3 separate regions of the Homo sapiens genome follow, and all the other regions are linked to region 3. The links come from fine-mapping of genetic effects on gene expression. A gene starts in region 3. Each other region holds a variant in brackets. All regions are shown on one strand. Distances are between the middles of the regions.

Region 1 (2,758 bases), 52 kb after region 3:
ATGCCCACCCAAAGGGTCTGCCGATGCTGGGTATGGGGTGAGGCTGTGTGAATGTGTGTCTGTTTTCAGTACAGCTGTGGGTCCCTCCACACCAGGCTGCAGTGGAAATGGGGACAGCCAACCACATGATTGCTGCTGAGAGGCTGAGGACCTCTGTAAGTGGAGGAGGATGCCTTCCTCCGGGAGCCTGTATCTGGACAAGCAGTGGCACTTGGTAAGGGTCGGGCCAGGACCCAGACCCAGACCCAGACCCAGACCCAGACCCAGACCCAGACCCAATTTAGAAAGCTCCAGACCATATGCAGTTTCCTGCAGTTTCAGTAGGAAGAGAAGGAACCACCCCGTGGGCCTACTACAGAGTTGGGAAACGGCTTCTGGTTCTGCCCCCTCTATAGCTTTCTCTCGGTGAGTGATTTTTGCTTTCTCTGGGCCTCAATTTCCACAACTATAAAGTGGGTAGGGCAGTTGGCAGGCAGACTCAGTGGTCTGTGAGCCTTCCTTTCAGCTATGCAAGTATGCCTCCCCACTCAAGACCCTTTTCTTATCTACCAGGCAATGGTGAGCTGGCTTCAAATTCAATCAGGCCCAGACACTGAATGTTCTCAGCTGGCTGGGTCAGTTGGAGCTGGCCAAGCCCTGAATTGCCACAGCTTGGGTTCTCCTTGTGCTTGGGCATTTCTGCAGTTTGCTCTCTGGCCCCTCCCCAAGCCTGTGTCTGTCCCTAGTGGCCAGCCACTCTCTGACCCATTCAGCCACAAGTTAATGAGTGAACTGCTCCCCCTGGGTCGTACCAGCCCAAGGTGCTCCTGGGATCCTAGGTCCCTGTGGGAAGCAGCCAAGGGCCTAGCCAGCTCCAGTCACCTTTATGCTCTCTCCCACAACCCCTCTAGAGGTAGGTATGCAGGCAGAGCTCAGGGCAGAAGGACCTTTAGAGGGCACTAGGTCCAACTTTCCTTCTGAAGCTTGGGGCTTCCCGACAGGTACTTGTGCAGTTCCTGCTCACTCATGTTCAATACCTGGGAATGTGATATGTTTCAAGCAAGTTGCTTTCGTCTTTGGAATGTGTGAAAGTTTTCTCTTATGTTGAACTTAACTGTGCCTCCCTGAGGCTTCTAACCCTGGGTTCCGAGTGTGCCCTCTGGGACCACCTGGACCCTGTCTGCTCTCTCTGACCTTCAGGGATCTGAGGATGGAACCCAAGTGCACCTGTGTCTTCTCTAGGCCAAACAACCTTCAAGCGTCTGCGCTCCTTCTCAGACCTGGAGCAGCCCCCTTCCCAGCCTCATCACTGTCCTCTGTCCTCCCTACATGCTACTGTTTATGGCCCCCTTAACATGTGGGGGCAGGAAATGGGGCACTGGAAACCCCTCACTCCCCTTAGTTTATTTATAGTCTGAACTTGTTCAGATGACTTTTCCATAATCCTTTTCTGGTTACCACAACAGGTAGACTCCTAACCCCCAGAATCTTGGGTGCAAATACCTTAGACAACACTGATTTGTTTATGGTTCAGGTCCAGCCAGCTCTCACGATTGGAGAGCCCTTGGAAGGTAGGGCCTTCTTATTGGTGCCCCCATAGTGGAGGACAAGCCTGGTGTTAGTAGGTGTTCCCCTTGTTGAGTTAAATACAATGTAATATGTGGGGGGCTTCCAGCGTACCCTGCTTTCCTGCCACTCGGTTTTATCTTTGGAGTTGGTCAGGGGTGGGTGGAGGGAAGGGGATATTTTAGGGAGTACTGAAGCC[G/A]GAAATGAGTATGAGCCATGCCCACAGTGGGGCCTAGAAGAGTGAATCAGACAGTGAGAAATACCAACGTAGCCATTCCTTCCCCTGGCAGTTGATGATGATGACTATGAGTCCTCCCATTTCTTCAGTTGCCAAGGCACTTTCACTTCCATGATTCCATTGTGTTCTTAGAGCAGCCCTGTAAAGTAGATGGTATGATTTCCCCAGAATGATCTGTGGTGGTCTCCACCTGAGGCCCAGGGAAGGGAAGAACAGTCTCCAGTGAGGGAGGATTTGGAGCCCAGGTCTCCTGACCCTCAGCCCTCCCTGTTTTCCCCAAACCACACCCAGCAGCCATGGCAGCCGGGGCTGACTCGGCAGCTTCCCCACCACAGAGGAACCCCTGCCCTGGCTGCAACTCTGTTCCTGTGAGAGAGTGAGCTCCAAGGGACGTGGCCTAGGATTTCCTGTCCTTTATCTGGGCTGGCCAAAGGCTGGCCTGTCTGAGGTGTGAGATAGGCACCTGCAGCCAGCCTTTCTGCTCCAGGCTGAGGTCAAGTCAGGCTGTGGCAGAGGCAGTGAGCTTGTGGGAAGAGCTTGTCCCCAAACATCTGTCCTGAGCAGTGCCCACACCAGCAGGGCCTTCTAAATGGGAAAAACAGAGAGGGGAATGTGGAAAAGGGGTCAGAGTGGAGCAGAAGTAAAATACGTCCTGAGCTGTACACAAGCTCTCATGTTCACAGTGCTGGGAGACTTTGGGCAAATTACTTAACTTCTCTGAGCCTTCATTTTGTCAGCTCTAAAATGGAGATATGTACCCACCTCATGGAGTTGTTGAATATTAAATCCAACAATATAAATAAAATTATTGCCATTATTGTTGCTTGGTAGTACCTTCTGCAGTCCTGTCATTTGGTTGTTTTTCACTGACCTGGGGGTGGGCAGTTCTCAAACCTGCCACCTCGTGGGCATTCGGTCTGGACTTTGCAGTCATTTCAGAGTCCACCTTACCCAGAAAAGCTCCCTTTGGCCATG
Region 2 (2,758 bases), 37 kb after region 3:
GGTGATGGGCAACCATTTCTAAAGCTAGATCTTTGCCACAGAGTGTGGCAGAGGACTCCTGTGTGAAATGCTAGTGCTGTATCCACCAGCTCAACAGGTGCTAGGCCCAAGAGACTGCCACCAGCCAGGAAACAGTCAGTTGCCAAATCTGAACGCTGGACCAGCCCTGTGCATGGCTCAGCCCCAGGATTAGCATCGATATAGGGAAAGGGGCAGCAGGGAGCCCCCTTGTCACTGCCCTCAAGGAGCTGATCTTCTAATTGGAATAAGGCCTGCTTCTGCCAATAATCAAATCAATCATCCTGGTGGGAAGTGGTGGAGGTAGGTAGGTAAGAGAAACTCCATGTGGCCTGAGAGGCAGTATGTACAGTGGTTACTAGCTAAAGCTGACAGTCCAAACTGTATGACCTTGGGCAAATTATTTAACCTCTCTATGCTACAGTTTTCCCATTGAAAATGGTAGCAATAATAATTCAGCTTATCATAGAGTTATATATGATGATTAAATCATATATAGAAAGTGCTTAGAATGCTGGCTCACATGACAAACACTCCATAAACCTTAGCTATTCTCAGTGACTAAGGGCCTATCTTTTACTGAACCAGGTGCCTGCTACCCCTGGGGTACAAGGCCATGGCCTGGAGGCATATGAAGGTATTAGACCGGTATGTCTCCTCTTCCTGGAGTGTACATTTTCCTCAAAGGCTTAAGGAAGGAAAAGATGAATTTTAATAAGAAAACAAGGATGCATACTAGAGTTAACTGAAAATTCAAGTGGATGTTTAAGATAAAAGCTGGACTTCAAAGACATTCCCACTTGGAGCCAACACTTCAGGTTTACATCATCAGCCCCCCAAGGTTTCATCACATTCTTCCCTCTCAGCCCTTAGGGGTACTTGAATACAAAAGTTACAGTAAAACAAACACTTGTGAATTCAAGTAACTCTCAAGGGGGTCCAATCATTCTCTGGGGGTAAGGATGATTACCACCGTTATATATGGGTGAAGATGGAGGCTCGAGGTCCCAATCCTGCCACTGCCACTTATGAGCAATTTGGATTACCTTTGCTGCTTCTGAGTTTCTCCAACTGTAAACTGGGGTAATGATGATGATATATATACTTCAGAGCATTGTGGTAAGAATTAAATAAGCACTTAGAACAATGTCTGGTATAGCTTGTGCTCAATCCACATCAGCTTTTATTAGATCCATTCTTGCATCTCCTCTCACAGCACCATTGTCAGCTATGTGTCATATTATGTCCATTATCTGGAGGAGAAACTTGAAGCTGTGGAGGTTCAGTAAGGTGCCCCCTCTCCTCCTCTTTGCTAACAGCAGGCATTCCTGCCTGGAGTGGGGAGGTGGTGGGAATAAATAACCTCGAAGGTCCTTCCCAGCAACAGGGCTCTGTGACTCAAGTGAATCTTCGGAGCTCTTTCATATCACTGTTCTGGCTGGAGCTGAAGCAGCAGAACTCAGGAAATAGGGGTGGGACTGGACAGGGCGGGAGATGCCTTAGCAGGGTGGGAAGTGACTGCTGCCGCCCTTCCTTCTAGGCCGCTGCCACTGCCGGGGGCTATGTCCCACACTCCCGCCCAACCGGAGAGCAAAAGGGAAACT[C/T]CTCTGCTTGGAGGAAGCTGACTGAGGCCTCCTTTTCCGCGGGCGGCGTGGGGGAGGGGGCTGCCCCTGTGAGAGGCGCAGTGCAGGGACTACTCGAAACTCAGGAGTCAACGGGGTGGCAGCAGAAAGCTGGGCCCAGAGAGGGGCATCCCAGTGGCTGTTTGTCCTGCCTGGGCTAGTCCAGAATGGGGACTGCTGATAGGCCAGAGGGTGCTGGGAGAGACGGGCTTCCCATTGATTTATGGTCATTTGAAGGGAAAAGGAAAATAATTCCATGAAGTAGAAATGGCCTAGTGGAAGGAGGAGCAGAGTCAGATCTGCCTTGGTTCTGAAACAAACTCACTGTGTGACCTTGGACAAGTCCTCTTCCCCACATGAAGAATGCATTCATTCAGTTAGTAAATATTTTGTGAACACCTGCTATGTGCCACCATTGCCCTGGGGAAAAGGGATGCATGGCATGAAGATCAACATGTTAACCTCTAATTTCCTTCTAGCTCTGACACTGAGTTCATGAAAAGTGGGTGCAAATATCATGCAAATAAGCACATATCAACTGGAAACTGCACTTCCTTTTTCTAGCTTATCCCTCACAAATGGAGTAGCTTAGCTCTAGATTCCAGGAACAAGGTATGGAGACAGTAGGGGGGAGGGGCTGTGACCTTCACCCATGTACCCCTTTATCGTTCACAAAGCACATTCATTATTCCCATCGTGTCATAGGAATATTACCCTCATTTTACAGATGAGGAAACTGAGTCTCAGAGAGGAGAAATCACCCAGGTTATGCCACAGTTAGAGCAGAGGCCCTATTAGGATGTTGGTCCCTTTACTGGCCACCAACAGAAGTAGAATGGAAATGACCTGGTCTGAGAGCTGTTGGTAACTTTTGGCCTTATCTCCATTGAAAACAAATTTAACCAGGACCCCCCACCATCCCCAAGTCAGGTAATGCAAGTTTGCTTGCGGTGGTGGGGATTGCGTATTAGAAAAAACGGTTATGTACCTTAGAGTCCTAGTCCAGGCTTTTTTTGTGGTACACGCCAGGGGCTAAACTCTTTGAAAATAAAAGCTAATCTTTCTTAATGAAGTCTATACTCCGTGCCAGGCACCATGATCAGTCCTTCAGATCCTTA
Region 3 (2,758 bases):
GGCTTCCCCTTATAAGCCTGTGCTCAGCTGGACGTGGGTTGGAAGCCACTTACCTTGGCTCTTGCTGACCATCTTCCCGACACAGCCCAACAGAACTCACATCTGAGACACCCCTGAGGTCGGAGCTAGAGAGAGGGTGAGGTCAGTGATTGCAGCCTCCTTGGTACAAACGAGGAAACTGAGGGTCACAGAGTAAGTTGTAAACAGAGCTGGGGGGACCCTCACAGAGCCTCTGGACAAACCTCCGGACAAAGCCACTGATGAAGAAAGTCCCCGAAGGCAGGTAGAGGCTTGCTTAAAGCAACCTAGGACCTTCCAGGGTCCCAGGACCTGGCTGTTTGCCTGACTAGCTTGGGTCTCTGAAACAGAAGTGAGGCCAGGGAGAGTTAGTTATTCTGGGCCTCATGATGACATGTGCCTCCAGAGACCCAAGCCTGGCCTTTTGCCATGGGGTCCCTGGGAGCCTTCTGGCTACCAGCCATGGCACCCTGCCTTCTGATGTCTGGGGAGGGGCTGAGAGAGGGGGAGGGTCACTGCTTCTTAATGGCTTTCTGCCCAGAAAGCCTCTAGAACTGCCTGCTGCTGACTTTCTTTCCTTTCAGGGCATCCAGAGGGTTCAAGTTTAGATTTCAGGCTAAACTTCTGGGCTTAGAGGGTCCTGAGCATGGGACTGGATAAAGGAGGGAAGCCATCATCTCTTCAGAAGATGTTCAGAAAAGGGCATACACCCAGTCTATCTGAGCTGGGAGAGAGCTGCTGTTATGCCCTGGGGCAGGGGGATGGATGAAATGGCATTTGAGGGCTCAGATTCTCTTTGGGGCAAGACCTGACTTCCTATGGACTCCCAGGAGCAGCAGGGGAGTTCTGAGAGGAACTGTGATTGTCCAGAGTGGAGTTTCTTTGAGACTTGCCCTGTACCTAACCCCAAACAGATTTGATACTTAGAGACCTCTAACCCGGCATCTCATTGTACAGCTGGGAAAACTGAGACCCAGGAGGAAGGGGCCTCTCCGAGATGCCACAGTGAGTCAAGAGTCCTCACTTCAGAGGGCTGGAGAATAATCTACTGAGGCAGGGCCAGGGCACCTGTCTGAGAGGGGCTTCTAAGGCTGCAAGCTTTTCCCCTTCCGTGGACTGCATTCACACCTTGTTCGGTCCTGCTGGGGCCGGGGCTCTCCTTCCTTGCCCCTTTTCCTTGGCACTCTTTCCACAGGCCCTGTGTGGTCTGGGCTCTACCGAGAGGTCCCCAAGGAGAGCTGGCGTGTCAGTCAGCCAAGAAGCAAGCAGGCAGGCAATGCCAGCATGCAGGTGGCGGGGCTGGCAGGGGAGCCGGCAGGAGGGCCGGACACCCGGAGCCGGGGAACTGTAATGTTCAGGGAATTTCAATTGGCATTGCTGTCCCGTTCCAGCCAACTGGCTAACGGTGCCGAGTTTGAATCAGTGACCCGCCTCCTGGTCCCTCCTCCTTAGCCGGCCTCTCTCCCTCCCTCCTTTTTTCCCTCCCTCGGTGGCCTTCCAGGAGGCGGGAGGCGCCCGCTGTCGAGGCAGCTGAGCCCCGGCAACCGCTGCTCTCCGCCTCTCCCCTCGCGGGGCCGGCTCATGGAGCGCAGGGACCGGGCTGGCTCTCGCCGAGCCCCGGGCCTCTTTTAGCCTCGTCCCCAGAGAGGGAGGAGCCGGTGCCCGGCACAGCCCCGCCGGCCCTAGAAGCTCCCCACGCGCCACCATGCCTCTGCTGGACGTTTTCTGGTCTTGCTTCAGGAAGGTGAAGGTAAGTGACTGGCCAGCCCCAGCCCATCCCGCTGCTCAGGGGGGAAGGAGGCAGATGTGGACCACTGCGCACCAGCTGGGAAAACGGACCAGACGGGCTTCTGAGACTACCTGAGGCTCTCGGAGTTAGAAAGGCTTGGGTTCAAGTCTCACCTTTGTCACTTAACCAGTTCTGTGACCTTCTGTTGCATTCCCATACAAACAAGTCTGCTAGTTGGCTCTTTTTAATAAAACTCGCCTCTGTTGCTTCCTGGATCTTGCCACAAAGGCAAGATACTTAACCTCTCTGAACCTCAGTTTCCTCTCAGCTTTAGAATGAGGACCATAGTAACACCAACCTTACGGGGTGATGAGGTTGGTGTTATTGTTTACATAGCAAATGTATGCAAATCCAGGAGATAATGTGTGTAAGCTTCCTAGCAGGATGCCTGGTGTGGAGCATCCACACAAACAATGGTATCTATTATTATTATTATTATTAATTTCTATCCATATATATAAAAGCACATACTCTGTGCTAGGCACCACTGGAGCTACACAAAGACAAAAAAGGGCTGGACACAGTGGCTCACGTCTGTAATCCCAGCATTCTGGGAGGCCGAGGTGGGAGGATCACTTGAGGCCAGGGGTTCAAGACCAGCTTAGGCAACATAAGGAGACCCCCATCTCCATTTTTTAAAAGAAGACAAAGAAGGACATGGCTTTTGTCCTCAAAGAGAATATAAGAAAAGTGACAAATATTTACCAGGCACCTACTATATGCCAGACATTGTGCTAAATAGTCAGTTTGTCAGTAAATATTTGTTGAGTGTCTACTATATCCTGGCCATGGGGGATACATGAGCACAGCCGAACCCACAAGTGTGTGTAAAGCATGATTCCACTCTCAAGAACCAAGAAACTAATATTTATTTAGTATCCACTATGTACCAGACCTAGGCACTTTTAATTCATTCATGTGGCAGTGATCCTCAGCACAACCCATTGTTTT

Alleles and levels. Alleles are on the strand shown, and positions count from the first base shown. SD is a standard deviation of normalised expression in the study named. Not every link is listed here.
In carriers of allele G in region 1, the expression in fibroblasts of the gene that starts at base 1,507 in region 3 tends to be higher than with A alone (moderate effect, 0.60 SD a copy in GTEx).

Evidence for each region.
Region 1: its variant is fine-mapped to the expression of STARD8 in fibroblasts (GTEx, PIP above 0.99). The same link has a PIP of 0.9 or more in T cells, blood mononuclear cells, monocytes and whole blood.
Region 2: its variant is fine-mapped to the expression of STARD8 in whole blood (TOPMed, PIP above 0.99). The same link has a PIP of 0.9 or more in blood mononuclear cells.

Annotation. Positions count from the first base shown.
Region 1 is chrX:68,698,358-68,701,115 of GRCh38, forward strand. The region is part of intron 2 of STARD8 (StAR related lipid transfer domain containing 8); the gene reads left to right. Among named protein-coding and RNA genes, the nearest start is that of STARD8, 52 kb to the left of the region's middle. The variant G/A (reference allele first, on the strand shown) is at 1,745.
Region 2 is chrX:68,682,891-68,685,648 of GRCh38, forward strand. All of the region lies in intron 2 of STARD8 (StAR related lipid transfer domain containing 8), which reads left to right. Among named protein-coding and RNA genes, the nearest start is that of STARD8, 37 kb to the left of the region's middle. The variant C/T (reference allele first, on the strand shown) is at 1,623.
Region 3 is chrX:68,646,160-68,648,917 of GRCh38, forward strand. It overlaps STARD8 (StAR related lipid transfer domain containing 8), which reads left to right and starts at 1,507. Exons shown (of 15, transcript NM_001142503.3): 1 at 1,507-1,768. The coding sequence starts at 1,724.